Homo sapiens: one gene and its partners. The protein of the gene in region 1 interacts with the protein of each later gene in a pairwise test. Each region holds a gene or a part of one and is shown in the gene's direction. Other genes may lie near its edges.

Region 1 (7,026 bases):
GAAGATGGAGATGGTATGGCCATCTCAGTGATTTTTCCTGTGGAGCAAAGAAGTGGGTGGTAGTTGAAGGATGCAGTGGGGTCGGGGAACATGTCATTTTCCCAAGGAAAATACTGGATGTTTCTGTGCATTGGGAATGGTCCAGGAAAGGGGAAAATTATGGTGCAGGCAAGAGGGAATTGTTGCTAGGGGGCTATTGAGGAGTGACTTGGAAAGCAGGTTTCTCTAGGGAGGAGGAAGGGGCAGGAAGTGGCAGTGAGGAGGGCAGACACCTAGCTCACTGCCTGTCCAAGTGGTACAGGATTCACAGGGGAGAGCCCTGGTCCTGGAGACTAAATTTCAAACCTAGCCGGAAGGTGAGAGGATCATCAGAGAAGAGGGTGAGGACATAGGGAGGTTTGCTGTTGGTTTTTGGAGATGGGTAGGAGATGAGATGGGATTAAAGGCGCACAGACCTGAATGGGGTGAGGGATGACCTGAGAGTGTTGCACGTCTTGTGCAGCAAGACGTAACCAGGATGGCGGGCACATTGGAATTGGGTCTTGACAGGGATGGTTCTAGGCCAGTTGAGGAGTTGGGCGAGGCAGTGAAGGTCATAGGGGAGCATCCTGACATCCAGGCTGCATCATCCTCCTATGCAGGCGCTTTGAGCCCCGGGGAGAGGCACGGTAGCCAGAGTTCTGGGACCTCTCCTTCGAGATGCCTGGGAAGAAGTCAAGGAGGGAGAGATATTGAGCCAGATCTTAAGAGAGTTGATCATATTCCTCCCCTGATCACATCCTTCATTGACTTCCTGCAGCACTTGAGTAAAATCCAGATCCCTCCCTTGGCCTCTCAGCCCTGCACTGCTTGTCGGCCCGCCTCCCCACCCTCTCCCCAGTGCTTGCCTTGCCCTGCCCTCTTTCTCCTCCTCAGTTGGAGCCATTTTCTTCTGCCTGGGAGACCTGGCAGTTGCATTTCTTTTTTCAGGAATGCCCCTTCCTGGCTCTTTTCAGAGTTGGATTGGTCACTTCCTGATGTCTTCACTTGGTCACCTCTTTAGAGAGGCTCTTCCTGACCCAGTTACTCTGCCCCTATTTATGTCCTTAGTAGAACCTGCCTCATTAGTTTATTGCCCATTTTCCCCCATCTGAATGTAAGTACGCTAGGTGCTGTCTTATTCCTTTCTGTGTATGTAGAACCTACCAAGTACCTGGTGTCTAATAGCTGTTCATAACTACTTGTTGAACAAACAGATGAGTGAGTTGTTTGGATTTGGGTAACTACCAAGGAGAGCTGAGGGCATTGGCATAAGGTAATTGTTGGGAGTTAGATGACAAGAACATAATGCCGGAACATTCTACAGAGTTCTCTTGTGGGAGTCCTACTAACCCCTGCTGACAATTTGCGAGATGTCTTAGTCCATTCAGCCTGCTGTAATAAAATACCTTAGACTTTGTGATTTATAAACAACAGAAATTTATTTCTTACGGGTTTTGAGGCCGGAAGTCAGAGATCAAGGTGCACTCATGGGTTCTTGGTGAGGCCTCCCCCTTCCTGGTGTCACACTGTTGCCTCTGGTTATATCTTGACATGGCAGAGAGCAGAGAGCTTTAGTCTCTTTCTCGTCTTATTAGGGCGTGGATCCCATTCATGAGGACTCCATCCCCATGACCTGATCATCTCCTGAAGGGCCATCTTCCAGTACCATCACCATGGGGTCGAGGATTTCAGCAAACACTCAGACCATAGCACACAGGTTGAGACAAGTCATTTGCTTGTTGACTGAGTTATTTCATATTTACAAATGGCATTAATTTATCATGTTTCACTTCAAAGATCACCGCGTGGAAGATGGTAATAAGAGAAAAATGCCTAATAAACAATTTAAGCTCTCTCTGCCTTTCCCACTTAGAAGATTGTAAGTATACCTACCTTATCTATTTCCCTCACTGTTCCCATGGTAGGTGTGGGTGAGGTGGTTAGGGGGAGTGTAGAGAAACACAAGGAGGAAGCTGTCTTTCCAGGTAGAAGGAGCTAAGGCGGCAGAGGAGACCCCAAGCAGGAGCAGCTGGCGAGGCGGGAGGACAGTCAGGAGAGCCGGTGGGACATGGGAGTTGAAGAGAACATTGTAAGCAGGAGGGAGTGCCAAAGTGTCCTGTGCTGTTGAGTTGGAAAGGATACTGATGCTTCAAAAATGTTCCTTGGAATTAAGGACACGGAAGTGACTTGTGTCTGCAGGGTTTCAGCCAGGGGAGGGCTGAAGCTAGAATGGTCAAGGTGAGCTTCCCAACCACTGTGCCAGGCGTGTGCCAGCTGGGGGTCCCGTCTACTCCTACAGCCTCAGATAAGGATTCCTGGGAAATAAGGCACTGGGCTAGGAAGGGAACTACATGAAAAAGTGTGGTGGGCCGAAGGGCCTGGGACCTTGACTGCACCTCCCCAGGGGCTACACTGCCTGGGCTGTGCTCCAAGTCTGGTGTGCAGAGGGAGCTTTCCCCGGGAGGCCTGCCTGCTAGAGCCTGTGTAATTGCCTGTGGCCAGCCCCAAAATCACTCACAGTGCTGTGGTCTGAATGTCTGTGTCCCCCCCAGAATTCCTATGTTGAAACTTAATCCCCAATGTGATGGTATGAGGAGGAGGTGCCTTTGGGATGTGATTAGGAATGGGTTTCATGCCCTATTAAAAAAGAGGCCCCAGGCCACATGCAGTGGCTCATGCCTATAATCCCAGCACTTTGGAAGCCTGAGGCAGGAGGATTGCTTGGGCCCAGGAGTTCAAGACCAGTCTGGGCAACATGGCGAGACCCCGCTTCTACAAAAAATTAAAAAATTAGTTGAGCGTGATGGTGTGTGCCTGTGGTCCCAGCTACATGGGAGGCTGCGGTGGGAGGATTGCTTGAGCCTGGGAAGTTGAGGAAAAGAAGGATCCATTGCCCTTTCCATCGTGTGAGGACTCAGAAGGTGTCATCTGTGAACCAGAGATGCCTCACCAGACGCCGAATCTGCTGGCGCCTTGATCATGGACTTCCAGTCTCTAGAACTGAGAGAAATAAGTGTCTGTTGTTTATAAGCTACCCAGTCTACAGTGTTTTTTTAAGAGAATTAAATAGTTTATTAGCTACATACAATTATGGATGATACACAAGCTTCATTCCCATCTATAATGTTATCTGGTACCATTATTCAGTTTAGATATATTGCATGGGATGTGCCAACAATCATTTTTATAACTAATAATTCTGTGACTTTGCTTGGGTGATCCCCTTTGGTGGTGAACTTCAGGTCACAACAGTAACTGTCAGTTCAGCTACACCGAGCTCACTGAAGACAGTGGCTTCTCCACCCGAGCAGAGTGTAAATAAGTTCCAAGTAGAACCTGGCATCACCCTGAAGGAATTCTGACTTCACACTCTTGGGGGAGTTTACCAAGATGGCTTCCGAGGAGACTAACTTTACACAGCACGTTTTTTAAAAGGACACATTTATTCAGTCTCATGATCAGACTATTACATTTAGCAATCAACAGCATGAGTGCAAAAGAAAAAAATTACATTAAAACCCTTTGTTGGAATGCTTGGTACTTTCCACAGAACAGAAACGAAAATAACCTGTTAATAAAATTAGTCACAAATACAGTCCTGGAGTTTTTTGCTCATACACGTGAGTATTGTCTAAAACATATCTTCTTTGTAGCAGCTGGGCTCTGCCACCACTGTGCTTGGCTGACTGAGTTCACAAATCTCTTGTAACCTGTAGCTTCCCTATCGCTTCTCTGGCTCTCCTTTCCGGCTAAACTTTGTTTCCTGGCAGTGATTAAAATCTTCTGCCAGTGCCATGGCTACTGCTGCTACTAGAACCACCATAGCCACCTTGGTTTTGTGAACCCATTTATGCCTGGTATTCCATTATTGGAACGCTAAGCATGTGGGAGTTATTTATGTTCTCCTGTTCAAGGTCATCGCCAAGGTCTGATTTTTCAAATTCAAAAAGTGCAACCTCAGGCATAAATGGGTTAAAATCTTCTGCCAGTGCCATGGCTACTGTTGCTACTGGAACCACCGTAGCCACCTTGGTTTTGTAAAGTAAAGTAAAATTTGGCAAAGTATTGTTCTCCACCACCATAAGGGCCAGAGCTTCTGCCTCCAAAGTTTCCTCCCTTTATGGGTCCAAAATTTGAAGGCTGATTGTTGTAATTGCCAAAATCATTGGAGCTTCTGCCACCTCCAGAATTGATTCCATCATTACCAAATCCATTACAGCCATCCCTGCTGCCACTGTATCCACCGCCACCGCTGTGGACAGCTGCCACCAAAGCCATCATGACCACTGAAATTTCCTCCATGACCGAAGTTGTCATTCCCACCAAAACCACCTCCACAACCACCACCAAAGTTTCCAGAAGCACTTCGACCTCTTTGGCTGGATAAAGCACTAGCCATCTCTTGCTTTCACAGGACTTCCCTAACTTCACAGTTTTGGCCATTCACAGTATGGTATTTCTGAGTGACAGTCTTGTCCACAGCGTCGTGGTTGTCAGAGGCACGAAGGCATAGCCCCTTTTCTTGGCACTACCTCTGTCAGTCATGATTTCAGTCACTTCAGTTTTTCCATACTGTTCAAGATCTCTTAGGCGATGTTCTTCAATGTCTTCTTTAATGCCGCCAGCAAATATCTTTTTCACAGTTGGGCACCTCGTCTTTGAGAATCTTCTCGAGACAGCCCTTTGGTTCCACAACTCTTCATCCACCTTGTGTGGCTTTGCATTCATGGCGCATCCACCTCCTTCACAGCGGCATACAGGACAAACCCAAAGCCCCAGAGTGCTTGGTGCTTGGATCTCATGACTACACAGTCCACGAGCGTTCCCCATCGCTCAGATTGGCTTCTCAGGTTCTCATCAGTTGTTTCAAAGCTCAGCCCTCCAGTGCCGAGATTCCACAGTCGGCCCTCCAGTGAGGAGCTTCCACAGCTGTTTAGGCTCTTTGGGAGACTCTGACTTACACTGGAGTGCAGTGGTGTGATCTCGGCTCACTGCAACCTCTGACTCCCGGGCTCAGGTGATCCTCCCACCTCGGCCTCCCAAGTAGCTGGCACTACATGTGTGTGCCCCCATACCTGGCTAATATTTGTATTTTTTGTAGAGATGGAGGACTCGCCATGTTGCCCAGGCAGGTCTTGAACTGGGTTCAAGCAATCCGCCTGCCTCAGCTTCCCAAAGTGCCAGGATTACAGGCGTGAGCCACAGTGCCTGGCCTATGGTATTTTTGGTGTAGCAGCCAGCACATAGATTTTTAACCAGGAGCTGGATCCCTTACCCAGCACTTAGAACAGGCACATAGCAGCACTCAGTATTTATTGAGCCAGTTAGTGGATGGATGGATGGATGGATGAATGGATGTATGAGTGTACAGAGGCTGGAAGGTGAAGTGAAGTAAGCTTTCTGTTTAAGATGGAAGGGACTTCATGTTTAAAAGTTGATGGATGCATTTTCAGAGAGTGAGAACATGTTCACTAGAGGAAAAAGCCCAATAGCATCAATTCCCTGAGCAGGTAAGGGGTTGGCTGTAAAGCAGGGTGGACAGGTGGATCTCAGCTCTGTGGGAACCAGGAAAGGACAAGAGCATGGGTGTTCTTAGTTGGTGTGTTTGGTGGTTTGGTGGTTTGGTGGCAGCAGGAAGGTAAGGGAGTTCACACTGATGGCTTTGGGTTTCTGTGTGTGAAGTAGGGGAAGTTGTCTGCTAAGAATGGAAGTGTGGGGCAGGAAGTGGAGGTTTGAAGTGGTTTAGAGTAAAATGGACGTTGAGATAAAGCAAGAAGCCTTAGATTGCCAGGCAGCAATGTGCAGGCCATGGGGGGCTGATGAGGACTGGCTCAGGACCCCCCTGCCCTGTGCCTGACTCCACCCAGCAGTGCTCAGCTCAGCACCTCCTGGAGCAGGAGGAGGGAAAGCTGCACTCCGGTGGGATTTTACCAGGTGGAGGCAGCGGAAAGGGAATTTGAATGTCCTGTTGAAGCCGCTGAAAAAACGGAGAAGGGCCGGATGAGGAGTTCAGGAGGCCAAGGAGTCAGCACGGTGGGGCCGAGGAACCAGCCTGCTGCCAGAAGAAACGGGTCGGAGAGCGGCAGCCGGAATTTTGGCGATGGTGTAATTTCGAGCAGGAAGACTGCCCTGGGCTGGGTCACTGAGTGGAGTGGAGGGGAAAGGCCAGTGGAGATCAGGGGATGCTGCACAGAAAGGCCAGGCTGCCCACGCACACGTGGAACCCGTGCCGCATGCTGCAAGGATCTGGATAGGCCCCGCGATCAAGAGTCCTGAATGAGAAGGAGAAAGTGTGGACCCCAGCAGCGGGTGTGGGGAGCGGGCGGTTCTGCCTGGAATGGGCCTGAGGGTCTGCGGATGTCTGTTTCTTTTTCTCACTTGTCTGCACAACTTTGACTTTTTATACCCACTGCTATTTTGAAAAAGGAGTGGGAGGAATACTGGATTCAGTGTCATCATTAGTGGAAAGCCACAAGTGTTTCCTATGTTTAGATGGCAGAAGCCCAGGGGCAAGGCTCAGGTCCTTCCAGCTGTGCTGTCTCCTGGCGATCCGTGGATTAGAGCTGTTCCTCAGCTTCTCCGTCACTTAAAGGGGTGGGTTTCGGCTGTGCTGTGGGAGCCACTCATTCAGCCTTCATGTTGTTGCTGCTAGGACTACATTTTCCTCTATTATGTTTCTCACCTGCTTTTGTAAAAAATTAATGAATGAAGTTCTAGTTGCAAGCAGTGCTGTGCTTACTGTGGCGGGAATAGGGGAGCAGCCCCTCCTCAAGGGCCTGTATTCTCTTGGCTTCCTCTTCCTCTGGTAGCAGATAAGTAAAATGATGGATGGTGGTTTTGGGAGAGGAAGAGGTGGCAATTTTATTTCTTTTCTAAGACTAAGAGATTAACAAAGTTGCTGGTTTTGGTGGGATTGCTCCTGATTGGTGGTAAAAGAAAGCAGCACATAAATGCTTATGATAAGCAGGCTGGGTGCAGTGGCTCGTGGCTCATGCCTGTAATCCA
Region 2 (7,026 bases), on another chromosome or scaffold:
CCTTGAGCAGCAAAACCAAAGGTGTGAACTCAAGAGGATCCCAGAGCAGGCTCTGCAGAAGGCCTCTAGAGGGGATGGGGAGGGGGGTCTGACCCGGGCCTGCCTGAAGGGAGCCCTTGAGGATGCTGGGCTCACACAGAAGGGCGTTCAAGGTGGAAGGAACCACATGCGCAAGAGCCTTAGAGTGGGAGCCAGGGGCAGTGCCGGGGTCGGGGCTAGGCTTGGCTGGCACGGGGTGTTTTCTGAGGATTCCAGGCAGGACCACTGAGGCCGTTCCCCTGCAGCAGCAGGAAGTGCCTGAGAGTTCTGAGTGTGAGAGGGACTTGGGCTGGGGAGGCAGAGCTGTCCAGGAGGGGCTGCTGCAAGATGGAGAAAAACAGCCTCCCTGGACCCTCAAGGGCGGAGGACAGTGACAGCACAAACCAGTGGCTGGTTTGCAGAGAGGACCAGACCTTCCCCATGCAGATCAGTTCACATTGTCTCTGTACTGAACAGCCCTGAGAAGGGGTGTTCCATCCATTCAGTCCTCTCTGGGGGCTTCTTGGGGTGATGAGAACAGGATGCCCCAAGTAGGGGCTCTACCACAGGCCTAACAGGTACCAGGCTGCGTCACCTCATTCCCCAGAGGAGCCAAGAGCGGAGGCTGCCCAGAGTGTCCAGCACGGTCTCTCCCCTTCAGGAACATGACATCGAGACACCCTACGGCCTTCTGCATGTAGTGATCCGGGGCTCCCCCAAGGGGAACCGCCCAGCCATCCTCACCTACCATGATGTGGGCCTCAACCGTAAGTGCAGCCCAGCCTCAGTCAGCCCTCCTCTGCCTCCCATCAGCCAGAGCGGTGAGGCCCCCCACCCTCCCCACAGGGCCCTGTCAGCCCCACTCACACTCACCTCTGTTGCCTTCGCCCTCCGGGCCTCCATTTCCCCGACGGACCCGAGGCTTACACTTCTGCCTTGCCTGCCCTCTGGGGGCCCGGCCTTCCTTCCAGTCCCCCGGCCCCTCTGCTCAGCCATAGTGGAAGTGTGTCTTTGCAGACAAACTATGCTTCAACACCTTCTTCAACTTCGAGGACATGCAGGAGATCACCAAGCACTTTGTGGTGTGTCACGTGGATGCCCCTGGACAACAGGTGGGGGCGTCGCAGTTTCCTCAGGGGTAGGTACCCTGAGCCCCCTCTGCCTGTCTCCAGCTCTGCACCTGAGGCCACACCTGGGCCCTGACCTCCTGCTCTGCCTGCAGGTACCAGTTCCCCTCCATGGAGCAGCTGGCTGCCATGCTCCCCAGCGTGGTGCAGCATTTCGGGTGAGTCCCCGCACAGCCCCTGCGCTAGGGCCCAGGGGTGCCTACCCCAACTGCAGAGCCACCTGGCTCCAGCTGAGGGCTTCAGGCTATGGGCAGGGCCTGCTCTGGATGACATGTATGGGAAATGGCACCCCTAGCCCTAGAGTGACCAGCCTGCTCTGCACCAGGTTCAAGTATGTGATTGGCATCGGAGTGGGCGCCGGAGCCTATGTGCTGGCCAAGTTTGCAGTGAGTCTCCCCATGCCCCCATTACCCCAAACACCAGGGCAAGCCAGGGATGTCCCAGTGGTGGGGACTGGGGGGAACCCTTCAGCCTTGAGGAAGTGTCCCTGCTCTCGCTTCTCCTCCTCCCACCTCCTCTTTATGTAGAAAACCTCTTTTTTCTTTTTTCCTCCAGGGAAATTAACTTTTTTAAAAAAGAGGTTCCTTTCTCCATATAGTTTTCTCAAGAGACTAGAAACTATAACTTGCTTAAACTATTATCCAAAGCCAGAATTTCTAGTAGCAACAAACTATACAACTAACTGCTCTAGCCACTAAATAAGGATCGTCCTTCACTAATTGCCATGGTATTTCAACATGAATAATTTTTTTAGCAAAAAATTTTATTATGGTTGGGAGGTTTAAAGAAGGCACATTTCAAAAACATCATTGTCGGTGGCTCACACCTGTAATCCCAGCACTTTGGGAGGCCAAGGTGGGCAGATCACGAGGTCAGGAGATCAAGACCATCCTGGCTAACACGGTGAAACCCAGTCTCTACTAAAAATACAAAAAATTAGCCGGGCGTAGTGGCGGGCGCCTGTAGTCCCAGCTACTCGGGAGGCTGAGGCAGGAGAAAGGCGTGAACCCGGGAGGCGGAGCTTGCAGTGAGCTGAGATCGCGCCACTGCACTCCAGCCTGGGCAACAGAGCGAGACTCTGTCTCAAAAAAATAAAAAAATAAAAAAAATCATTGTTGGGTAGGAATTCACAAGCTTTTCATCTCTAAAAACAAGCAAAAAAAAAAAAAACAAAAACCCAAAAGACTAATTTTTCACGATCGAAGACATTTACTACTTCAAAAGAAATGACCAAGAATTTTCAACTCCAGTTGCAATGTCAGCACTTAATCATTTTGTTAACTGGAGGCCATTCCCTGCCACCCTAGACAAGCTTGATGTGGTTATGCTGTTTTTCTTTAAGCACAGTCTAACAGTTGAAAAGAAAATACCTCTTTTGCAATGCCTACGGCAAAACAGACTTTGAAAAGGTTGTTTTTTTCTTAATTTATATCATGAGGGCTTCATTTTCTTTTTTTTTTTTTTTTTTTTTTTTTTGAGATGGAGTCTTGCTCTGTCGTCCAGGCTGGAGTGCAGTGGCATGATCTCGGCCCACTGCAACCTCCACCTCCCTGGTTCAAGCAATTCTCCTGCCTCAGCCTCCTAAGTAGCTGAGACTACAGGTGCATGCCACCACGCCTGGCTAATTTTTGTATTTTTATTAGAGACAGGGCTTCACCATGTTGGCTAGGCTGGTCTCGTATGCCTGACCTCAGGTGATCAGCCCGCCTTGGCCTCCCAAAGTGCTGGGATTACAGGCGTGAGCCACGGCGCCTGGCCAGGGCTTCATTCTCTATAAAAGCAAAAAAACAACATGCTTAAGATTTTAAGATGTTTAATACTCAATTTTGCACTTCAAAAATATATTAAGAGCTGATTCTGTTGAAAGAGCGTGTGTGTGTGTGTGTGTGTGTGTCTGTGTGTGTGTAGGGGTGGAAACAATGATAGAGATTCTAAATAAATCCAAGAACTGTGAAGGGTTCAGTGAGAGGAGGACAGGCAGGGGCATCTGGACATGGGTGTGCATGCACAGACCCGGCTGTAGCCGGGTGGCTGATCAGCAGCACCTTGAAGACTTTACAGAGTGTTTCTGCCATCTGCACCCATCCTGGCCCCGCCCGGCCCTGTTTCCCCTCTTACTGCAGCTCATCTTCCCCGACCTGGTGGAGGGGCTGGTGCTGGTGAACATCGACCCCAATGGCAAAGGCTGGATAGACTGGGCTGCCACCAAGGTGTGTGTGGTGACCGGGGGTGGGGTGGGTATACCTAGGGTGGGGTGAGGGGCGGCACTCACGCTGGCGCCCTGCTCCCTGCAGCTCTCCGGCCTAACTAGCACTTTACCCGACACGGTGCTCTCCCACCTCTTCAGCCAGGTAAGGGGGGGAACTTCTGCAGATCTGGGGTGATCTGGGATTTGCCCCTCCCAGCTGGCTCGGTAGGAGGCAGGCGGGTGTCTTTGGCATCTGACCTGGCTCACTCCAGATGCTAAGCCATCTGAAAGACAGACATCCCCTCCCAAGGCCCCACACCTCCTACCTGCCCCCACCCTGTCTCCCCTGCCTGCTGAGTGGGGCAAGGGCCACTCTGGCAGTGACATCTGCCAGCCCCCTCTAAGCCTGCGTCCCTCTGTCTGCCCCTCTGCATGCCTCCATCCATCTCCCTGGGCCTAGGAGGAGCTGGTGAACAACACAGAGTTGGTGCAGAGCTACCGGCAGCAGATTGGGAACGTGGTGAACCAGGCCAACCTGCAGCTCTTCTGGAACATGTACAACAGGTGCGGGTGGGATCAGCAGCCCTGGGACCCAGCACACCCCAGTGGGGGCCCTTGCACACTGCCCCCTGAGGGAGGCAGGCAGACAACACCCTTGCCCTGGTTTGTAGATGGGCACGATATTGGGCCTCAAAGGAGGTCATTTCCTGCACAAGGTCACACCCTGTGAGGGGCAGAGGGGAACAGGGTTTCAGACTCCGGGCCTTGGGCTCTTCCACTTTTCCTCCTCCCCTGGGGGCTTCCCGCTTGGGAATGTTGGGGGTGTTAGTGACATCCCTGACTCCAGTAACCCAGCCTTGATGTTGACGTCTGCAAAATGAGGAAGAGGTCGGATGAGCCTGTGGTTTTCAAGCTGTGCTCCTTGGAGCCCCCTTTAGGGGCTGCCCTGCCCTGCAGGAAGGTGGCCAGGCCCCCTCACTCACGTGCCCTCCTTCTCATTCTTCTACAAATATTAAGCACCTGCTGTGTGCATGGTGCTAAGAAAACAAAACAATAGAGAATAGAGAGACCCAGGGCCTGCCATCCCATATGGTCCAGGAGACAGGCCAGTAGCAGAAACTCCCACAGCACAGGTGGCGGTGCGCATGGCTCTGAGGGGGATAGAGAGCAAAATTTGAGAGCCCACCTGGTATGTGCTAGGGAGTCCAAAAAGCCGTGACAGGGAGCCTCCAGTTCATTTATGCAGAGCAGGTCCACGCCTCCCTGCTTTACCAATTGGCAGTGTTGGGCTTGGGATGCCCCTCATCCTGTCCTGGGGTGCCCACCTCTGCCTCTGCCCCTCCCCCTGCCCCACAGCCGCAGAGACCTGGACATTAACCGGCCTGGAACGGTGCCCAATGCCAAGACGCTCCGGTGAGTGGCCCCTGGCCCTCTGGCCTGCCCTGGCCTTTGCCCCCATGACCCAGCCAGACAGCCCTTTTCCTCTGTATCTGCAGCTGCCCCGTGATGCTGGTGGTTGGGGATAATGCACCCGCTGAGGACGGGGTGGTAAGTGAGGGGCTGTGGGCTCACTGGGGGTGGGAGGTAGGGGTGAGGGGCTCACTGGCCCCTGCCCAGCAGGGACAATTCTTGATCCAGCCCAGGGGAGCCTCCAGGGCCAGCAGTGGACGGTGGGCTTCTTGTCCACTTTCCCACAGTCTTGCCAAGCCTCACATCTGGCATAGCCCCCATCCTTCTGGCTGGGGAGGCCTGGAAATGGGGAGAGCTGGGGCCAGGGCTGGGCCATCAGAAGGTCCCCTCTTCCCTCCCCAGCAGCACAGCCCCAACTTGGTCCCTACCCACCTCAGGCCCAGGGTGTACGATCTTTTTTCTAAAATGTGATCAAGCCATTATAAATCATTAACGCATACAGCGGCACGGTCTCCCTTTTCCCGTCACCTGCAGCGGTTATGTTTGGGGGCCGTGTGTCACCTCTCCTGCTGGAACTCTGGGAGCAGGTGGCCTGAGGCTGGGATGCCCCATCAGCACAGAGCTGCTGGGAAGCTGCAGGGTCCAGAAGTGCCCAGAGCAGCCCCGTGCGCCCTGAAAATACCAGGCTTTCCCATGCCCACTGGGAGGTCCTGGAAGAGCAGGGTGGTGGGCTGTGCCAGCCCCCTCCACCCAGTCTCTCTCAGACCCTCGGCACCCCTCACCTCACTGCCGAGGGCACTGGGGCTTTCCCAGGCCAGTCCCACCACGGCAGCCCAGCCCTCGCCTGACTCCCACTCCTAGCAGTTGTGAGTGGGCTCCAAGGGTCCCAGGCCCTTCAGTGGGGCTGTTAAACTGGTCTCCAAGAACATGGGGAGCCCTGGGAGAAGAAAGCCTGGGAGGAGCAGCCTGTCACAGCTGCTGGGCCTCCCTCTGCCTCCCTGCACCCCCTCTCCTCCCCGAGCTTGGGGCATCAAACCTGCCTTGGCAATGGGGGTGGGGAGGGGCAGGGGCTGTTGCTGAAGCTGGCTCCTTGTCCTCAGGTGGAGTGCAACTCCAAACTGGACCCGACCACTACGACCTTCCTGAAGGTGAGGCTTTCTTCCCCAGCCCTGGGCCAGCTTCCCTAGCATGGGCCCAACCTCAGGGAGGTGTTTTCCTGGGGTCCCAGCCAGGGTGGGAGCTTGTCCTGGAGTGAGGGCCCTGCTCAGGTCACCCCACTCTCTCCCTTGCAGATGGCAGACTCTGGAGGGCTGCCCCAGGTCACACAGGTGAGACTTTTGGCCCTCCTGCCCTTACATCTATGGGGAGGGGGAAGCCTCTACCCTACCTGCTAATCCTAGGCAGCCAATGAAAGCATGTGCTTGTCCTGCCCTCCGCAGCCAGGGAAGCTGACTGAAGCCTTCAAATACTTCCTGCAAGGCATGGGCTACAGTGAGTACATTTCCACCCCACCCCACACCACCTAGAGACCGGTGGGCAGGCAGTGCTGGGGTTGGGGCTCCTGTTTGCAGGGCTGGCACGTGGTGTCAGGTGGTAGTAGGGAGCCCATAAGCATAGGAGTTTTGTGTGACCTGGGCCCCGGATGCTGGGCCCCACAGATGCCACCTGAGTTGCAAGTTGGCCATCCCAGGCTGTGCCCAACTCCCCTTTGCCCTTAGGGAGGACTTGGCGCACTGTTCTGATGGCAGTGCTGGGCCTACTGGGGGAAGGGACTCTTCCTTCCGTGCTGGGGGTCCAGGGCCAGGGGCCGTGTCCTGCCAGGGAAGCCTGTCTGGGGGTGAGGCACACTCCCCTCACCCGCCCCAGGGCTTGGGGTCAGAGCTGGGTCTATGGCACCTGAGAAGGCCTTTTGAAACAACTCATGGCTGCACCCAGGGGCATCATAGGAGTGGGCTTGGAGTTTGGGGCCAGGGAAGGCAACTGGGGCCGCCTGGCATTCAGAGAGCTGAAAGCAGCTGAACCTGGCTTGGCAGATCTGAAAATCTGGGTCTGGGGTGGAACCAGGTACACACACACAGACACACACACACACACACACAACACACCCCTTGTGTGTCTCCTTGACTTCCCCCTTCCCTCCAAGACATACCTGTTCCTCCAGGTCCCCACTGCCAGGAGGCAAACTTCCTCTTCTCAGTTTGTTTTTTGTTCCCCTCCAGACTTCAGCCTCTGGAGCTATCTCCAGGGCAAACAGGAGGGCTGCCTGTGGGAAGGCTGGGGAGG
Region 3 (7,026 bases), on another chromosome or scaffold:
AGGTGCCATGAACCATATTTTTTTACCCTCTCCATTCTCTCCAAATCTGTTTCATTGGTGGGATTCTCTGGGCTTTGGGTTCATTGTAGCAAAAAAAAAAAAAAAAAAAAGAAAAAGAAAAAAAAAAGTCGTGTAAAGTTGAACTACAACACGAAAAACAATCAATGTTTTTCTTGGTGCTAGGTGGAAGGGATCAAGTTTCTCTTTTCCCCAAGCCATATGTTGAAGAAGTGCAGAGGAAGTAAGGGCAGGAATAGATGGTAGAGGTAAACTGCTAGAACCTTTACAACAACTATTTAACTGCTAAAAATTATAAAAAAGAAATGAAAATCTCTGGAAGTTGTCTTAAGGGCATGCAGAAAATTAATAATTATTTATTCAAGAAAATCTAAATCTCAGTAAGAAGTGAGCGTCTATGGCATTTGAGCCAAGATCTGCTCCATTAACCTCTGTTCTTCCCAAGCTCAGTATGATGAGAGCTCAACTCTGAGTGGATGTAGCCAAAAGACTGGGCTCCCTCTCCTCCCAGCTTCCAGTTAAAGATCATAGTTCACCCCTAGAGCAAAAGGCTGTTGGAATCTCTTATTGTCCCAGCTTCAGGTTGCAGAAATTCTATTCATTGTAGACAGGACCAAGAGGACTATGGTTTCCTTCCTCTACCCAGCCTCCTCTCATAGGGTATAATCTCTAGCCCAGGAGCAGCAAGGTCCTGAATATCCCTGCCCTGGATCACTCATAGTGTATAGGATGTATTCCAGGAGGCATAAGCAAAAAAGACTAGGGACTACGATCCGTATTCAGTGCTCCACTTGTGGAGCAAGAGTATTGCTCCAGGAGAAGTAGGTCACTGTCTCTTCTGCCAGCTCTGGTGCAGTGGTGTAAAGGTACTACTCATAGGAGAGGCAGGCCATAAGAATAGAGGGCTATGTATCTTTCCCTTAGAAGACTGATGATACATAAGCTGGAATTTTATTTGTAAGACAGCATAGGGTATTTCAAGCATAGGGACACTGTTGAAAACAATGAAGATTCTTCTGGTGGACAATTAAGAGTAGGCTTGTTGCTTCATGATAGCAACAAGATAGTGGCAGACCAGCTAGAAGTTAAGCAAAGACAGGCAGAAAAAGAGGTAAAAAATGCCCTCTTGGATTTGGCACTAGCCACAAAATTTGGCCTCAAATATTACCCCTATAAAGAAGCCTGTTATAGATTGAATGTTTATGTCCCCCACAATTATATGTTGAAGCACAAATGCCAGTGTGGCTGTATTTGGAGATAGGGCCTCTAAGGAAGTAATTAAGGTTAATTGGGGTTATAAGAGTGGGGTCCTGATCTGACAGAATTAATGTTCTTATAAGAAGAGACTCCAGATAGCTCACTCTCTCTCTCTTTTTGGGTGCACACACTAAGGAAAGACCACGCGAGGAAGTAACGAAAAGGCAAGCATCTATTAGCCAGAAAGAGAACCCTCACCAGTGAATTTGCTAGCAGCTTGATTATGGACTTCCATCCTCTGGAGCTGTGAGAAAATACATTTTTGTTGTTTAAGCCACACAGTCTGTGGTATGTTGTTATAGTAGCTGAAGCAGACAAATTTAATTGGATCAGATTGTTGGTCAATTCATACCTCAGGGTATTATTGAAAACCATAGAGCAACAATTCAGCAAACAATTAAGAAGGCCAAAATCTGGGTGTGATACCAACACAGGCAGAACAATCACTTAACAGTGAGATAGTGGAAAGAAACAGTCAAAGTGAACACTACTAAAATGATTATTATCCCTTGGAAATGGGAGAGGATAAGAAAGACTGCATCTACCCAATGATGCACCTTCTGAGGAATGGCAACAGAGGCTGCGCATGCAGGGAAAGTCAGACAACATCTGGTAAAAAAAAAAAAAAAAAAAGTAGAAACAGTCCAGGTGTTGTATTTAGAATTTGAATATTTCAAAACAGCTATTATAACTAGGTTAAAAGAATTAAAGAAAATCAAAGAACAAAGAATTAAAGATAGATATGATTTAAAATGTCTCATAAAATTGAGAATATCAATGAAGAGTTAGAAATTATTTTTTAAAAAAGAACCAGATGAAAATTCTGAAGTTGAAAAGTACAATAAATGAAATTAAAAATTCACTAGAGGGGTTCAACAGTAGAGCTGTACTCATAGAAGCTGGCAGAAGAAAGAATCACTGAACTTGAAGATAGATTGGAAGATATTATGCAACATGAAAAACAGAGAAAATAGAATGAAGTAAAAAAATCAACAGAGCCTCAGAGAAATGTGGTACATTGTTAAATGCATTAACATATTCATAATAAGAGGGCCAGAAGGAGAGAGAAAAAGGAGCAGAAAAACAGTCAAAGAAATAGTGGCCCCAAACTTCTGAAGTTTGTTGAATATTAATCTACACATTCATGATGGTCAACAAACTCTAAGAAGAATCAAGCAAATAGATTTACATGCTTGCACATTACAGTAAAACTATTAAAAGCAAAACACAAATAAAAAACCTTGAAAGCAGCAAGAGAAAAAAGAAAAGATTCATTATGTATGAGAGCATCCTGATCAGATTAACAGCCAACTTCTACCAGAAGCAAAGGAGGATGGCAGTGAGATGACATTTAAAGCTGTAAAAGAAAAAGAAATTCCTATCAACCAATAATCTTACATCTACCTAAACTATATTCCTAAAATAAAGATGAAATAAAGACAAACAAAATCTAAGATAATTTGTTGCTGGATTCACTTTACAAAAATCAGTAAAGAAAGCAATAGTAAAGGAAGAAATATTAAAGAAAACAAATGACACCAGATATTAAGTTGAATCATTCCTAAAAAATAATAGCACCAATAAAGGTAATAATGTGGGTAATTATAAAAGACAAATGATTTGTTCTCCTTTTTCCTCTTAACAGATTTAATAGTAAACTGCATGAAATAAAATGTATATAATCTTAGATGAAATGGATAAATTCATAGAAAGACACCGACTACCATATGAACTTAAGAAGAAATAGAAAATCTGATAAGTAAAGATATTGAATTATTAATAAATTTCATAAAACCTTACACAAAGAAAGCCCAAGTCCAGATGTCCTCACTGGTGATTTCTACCAAAATTTAAAATAGAATTAATATTAACTCATCACAAATTCTTCCCCAAAATAGAAGAGGTGTAAATACACTTCCCAACTCATTTTATGAGGTCAATATTCTGCTGATAGCAAAAAAGGAGGAAATATCACAGGAAAATAAAACTACAGAACAATATCCCTTATGAATACAGATGCAGTAATCCTTGAAAAGACTAATGAACTGAATCCAGCAACATATAAAATTACGAACAATGATAAAATGGGATTTATCCCAGTAATGCAAGCTTAATTTAACATCTGAAATACAAAGTGATACAACATATTAATAGGATACAGAACAAAGCTCACATGATTATCTCACTAGATGCAGAAAACGAATGGACAAAATTCAACACCCTTTAATTATATAAACACCTGTGAAACTAGAAATAGAACGAAACTTCTTCAAAAGCATCCATGAAAAACTTGCAGCTCATATCATAATTTTTTTCAATAGGTTTTTTGGGAACAGGTGGTGTTTGGTTACATGGATAAGCTCTTTAGTGGTGATTTCTGAGATTTTGAAGCACCCATCACCTGAGCAGTGTACACTGTACCAATGTGCAGTCTTTTATCATAATTATGGTGAAAGCCTGAAAACTTTCCCCTAAAATCAGGTACAAGATAAGGATGTCCACTTCAATGAGTTCTACTCAACGTGGTACTGTGTGTTCTAGCCAGAGCAATTGGGAAGACAACAAAATAAAAGACATTCAGACTGGAAATAATTTAATAATCTGTGCATTCATCTTGTTCCAGTTACACTTTGAAGTGGTTTATATGAATTAGCTAAAAATCTCTCAAGCAGCCTATGAGAGTGATGCTATCATTATTCCTATTTTCAGATGGGGAAATTGAGGCACAGAGAGGTTAAGTAATTTTCTTACAGTCATATGACTAGTGAGTGGTAAGGGTGGGAGTTCAACTGAGGTGGTGGGTTGCCAGAGCCCAAGCTCTCAGCCTCTATACTGCACTGCCTGCCACTCAGCCCCATCTTGGGAATTGGCATGCCCTTCTCCAGGTTACTCTAACCAGAAACCAACAAGTCATCTTTGAGTTGCACCTCTCTATTATTCCCCCTTAACTACTGTTATTTATTAGCAAGTCCTATTGACTCCACCTCCCAAAAGTCCCTCAAATATGACTACTTCTTTCTATTTTTATTGTCACCACGTGGGTCAAAGCCACCAATGTGTTGGCTGTAGTCACCTCCTAAGGGTTTCTATGTTTTGATCTTTTACACTCTAGTCTTCCAGGCAGCACCCAAAGTGATCATTTTAGAAATGTGAACCATGTAATGTTACTTCCCAGCTCAAAACTTTCCAAATTTTTCCTTTTAGACCTTGAATTAAATTAAACTCTTTATAATGGCCTGAAGTGTTCTGCAAAATCTGATCCCTTTTTTGACCTCTTTATATTTCACTCTTTCTTTACGCCACAGGGGACACCTATGTAGTTTTCTTTCTGTTCAAGACAAGCACTTGAACAAGAAAATCCTTCTTGTCTTTGGGCATTTGCTCCAGCAATGCCCTCTACTTGGGATAGCCTTCACTCACATAGGTTTTCTCCTGGTAATTCTATAACTTGCTGCTGAGATATCACCTCCACAGCGGTGCCTTTCCTTCCCACACAATTTAAGGTAGTTCATCTTCCCTTGCCTTCTCACCATTCATCATACTATATAGCCTCTGTTACTATTGATTCATTTACTCTTTGTCTCCCTCTACTAAAATACAAGATCTTTAAAGAAGGAACTTTGTTTTTCTCATACAACATGGTATCATTAACACTTCTGATGGTGCAGGCCCTTTTTAGGTATGCAGTAAATATTTAATGATGAATGAATGAAATGTTAGACATTCATGGTGAGGCTGAAGCTTTTATCTCCCCTTCTAACAGGAATAGTGATTTGAGGTTCTTGGGAAAATTGATATGAAAGTACAAAAGCAAAGTGATTTTTATGTGCTCAACATTTGAAATAAGAGGATAAAAAAATACAAATTTTACCAACATTATTTTGGAGATAGAAGCAAAGTTCTACCACTCAACAAAAAAACATTAAAAAATAAAAGCTTCTCCAAGATTGCAAAAATAAAGTCCCATTTTCTAAATCCCATTTTTGGAGATGAAATCAAAGTTTTAGAGTACTGGCATCAAATTTTCTAATATTTCTGTACTTTTTCATCTCTTTTTCTCCGTCTTTTTTCTCTTTGATGCTACAGTAAATTTCTTTGGCCTATTATTCCTAATTTTTAAAGCTTTGGCCATATTTGAATGCATGGGAATCTTCCAGGATTTATTCATTAACAGCAGATTCACAATTCAGTGTTTGTTGCATCATAGCATTTGCTTTTTATAACTTTCTTCTTAAAATAATACTTAAAATTCACATCATTGTTCTGATCAAGAGCCTGTTCTGCATCTAGAGATACTTAGATGACTTGACTTTAATGAGATGATAAGGAATATATCTTAACTTTGGTTTTTAACTTCTTTGAGGTCACAGGCTCTTTTGGGAGCCAAGTGAAGACTGTGTACTCTTGCCTCTCCCATAAAACACACACACACACACACACACACACACACACTCACACATGAACACATCGTATACAATTCCAATGGACCTTATGAAGCCCACTTTTGGATTTCTGGCTTAGTTCTTCAAGGAGCAGTCTCAGCTCAGAGTATATCCATATTTGTTAACCTTAGAACCCAAGACAGGGAAGCAGTACACAAAAGTAAAAATTGCCCACATTTTCACACTTTCCTCCTTGTGGCATTGCTCAGGGGCTTTTCTCCAGGTTTGATTCTTGCTTTGGACTGGCTTCTGAGCTGCTCCAGGATAAATTATCTCTCCTGGTCACTGACTACTTGGCTTTCCCTGGTCATAAGATTCATGAGAAACATAAAATAAAGCAATGCTTCATATGACCACAGCATACCAGGCAGTTCCAGAACAATTGGTGAGCCTGCTTTGCTCATGCTGTCTTCTCAGCCCAAGGAAACAGTAAATCTCAACAATGTGTTCAAGTTAGTACTCAGGTTCCTCTGAGATGATGGCCACTGGGGACCCAAACTACCAAATTCTGTGGTTATTATTAGGATATTATACATAACAAAAGCAAAAGTCTACTCATTTAAGATATAAATACTTTATTTGTTACTTTCCAAATTGTTCTTATTCCAACTAAGAAGATTGTTTGGAACTACTCAAAATCCTGAGTGCTATTCACATAACTGATAAAAAACCAATGTTGTAAATTGGCTTTAATGTATATTCCAAAGCCAGTTTGGCAATATATGTCAAAATCCTTAGAAATGTAGGTACCTTTTGACCAAGTAATTTCCCCTTTAAGATTCCACTTTAAGGAGATAATATATTGAGCAAAGATTAATTATAAGGATGTGAATCATAGTAGTGCCTATATGAGCAAATAATTGGAAAAAAATGAGTTGTCCAATAATTTAAAAATATTAGTTAATTATGCTATGATATAGCTATATTAAATATATACTGCCTTCCATATTTTAAACATAATGATATAGAAAATTTTATAAATGGAGAAAATATTAACAATATTGATAGCTGAGAATCAGGTTCAGAATCTGTATCTTTGGTAGGATCCTCTTGTGATGCAATCATCTTATTCACATCCATTCTAGCGCTTCCCCACTGAGGAGCAGCCCTGTGGTTTAGGTAGAATTTTCCCTATTCTCAGCTCTATGAGTCAGCATGGCTGGGTTTTGCCAGTCTTCTGAGTATAATAATGCCTAAGTCAATCAGCTCATCCATATTCCCCTGGCTATAGTGGTTGTTTCTCATTTAGCTAAATCCACATGCACATCAAGACTGTTGTGTAGCAGTTTGAGAGGGGATAATCTCTCTA

Evidence for each region. The genes of interacting proteins can lie anywhere in the genome.
Region 2: the proteins of SFT2D1 (region 1) and NDRG4 interact in binary tests that used the Homo sapiens proteins (3 or more experiments, as listed by UniProt).
Region 3: the proteins of SFT2D1 (region 1) and SLC30A8 interact in binary tests that used the Homo sapiens proteins (3 or more experiments, as listed by UniProt).

The regions. Positions count from the first base shown.
Region 1 is NC_000006.12:166,332,522-166,339,547, reverse strand, and holds part of SFT2D1 (vesicle transport protein SFT2A), read left to right. Parts: intron 1-7,026. UniProt on the Homo sapiens protein: May be involved in fusion of retrograde transport vesicles derived from an endocytic compartment with the Golgi complex.
Region 2 is NC_000016.10:58,503,119-58,510,144, forward strand, and holds part of NDRG4 (protein NDRG4), read left to right. Parts: intron 1-587; exon of another isoform or gene 588-625; coding exon of another isoform or gene 626-679; coding exon 680-785; intron 786-1,035; coding exon 1,036-1,156; intron 1,157-1,240; coding exon 1,241-1,303; intron 1,304-1,470; coding exon 1,471-1,531; intron 1,532-3,268; coding exon 3,269-3,355; intron 3,356-3,439; coding exon 3,440-3,496; intron 3,497-3,793; coding exon 3,794-3,897; intron 3,898-4,689; coding exon 4,690-4,746; intron 4,747-4,829; coding exon 4,830-4,881; intron 4,882-5,843; coding exon 5,844-5,891; intron 5,892-6,035; coding exon 6,036-6,071; intron 6,072-6,182; coding exon 6,183-6,234; intron 6,235-7,026. UniProt on the Homo sapiens protein: Contributes to the maintenance of intracerebral BDNF levels within the normal range, which is necessary for the preservation of spatial learning and the resistance to neuronal cell death caused by ischemic stress.
Region 3 is NC_000008.11:117,137,971-117,144,996, forward strand, and holds part of SLC30A8 (proton-coupled zinc antiporter SLC30A8), read left to right. Parts: intron 1-7,026. UniProt on the Homo sapiens protein: Proton-coupled zinc ion antiporter mediating the entry of zinc into the lumen of pancreatic beta cell secretory granules, thereby regulating insulin secretion.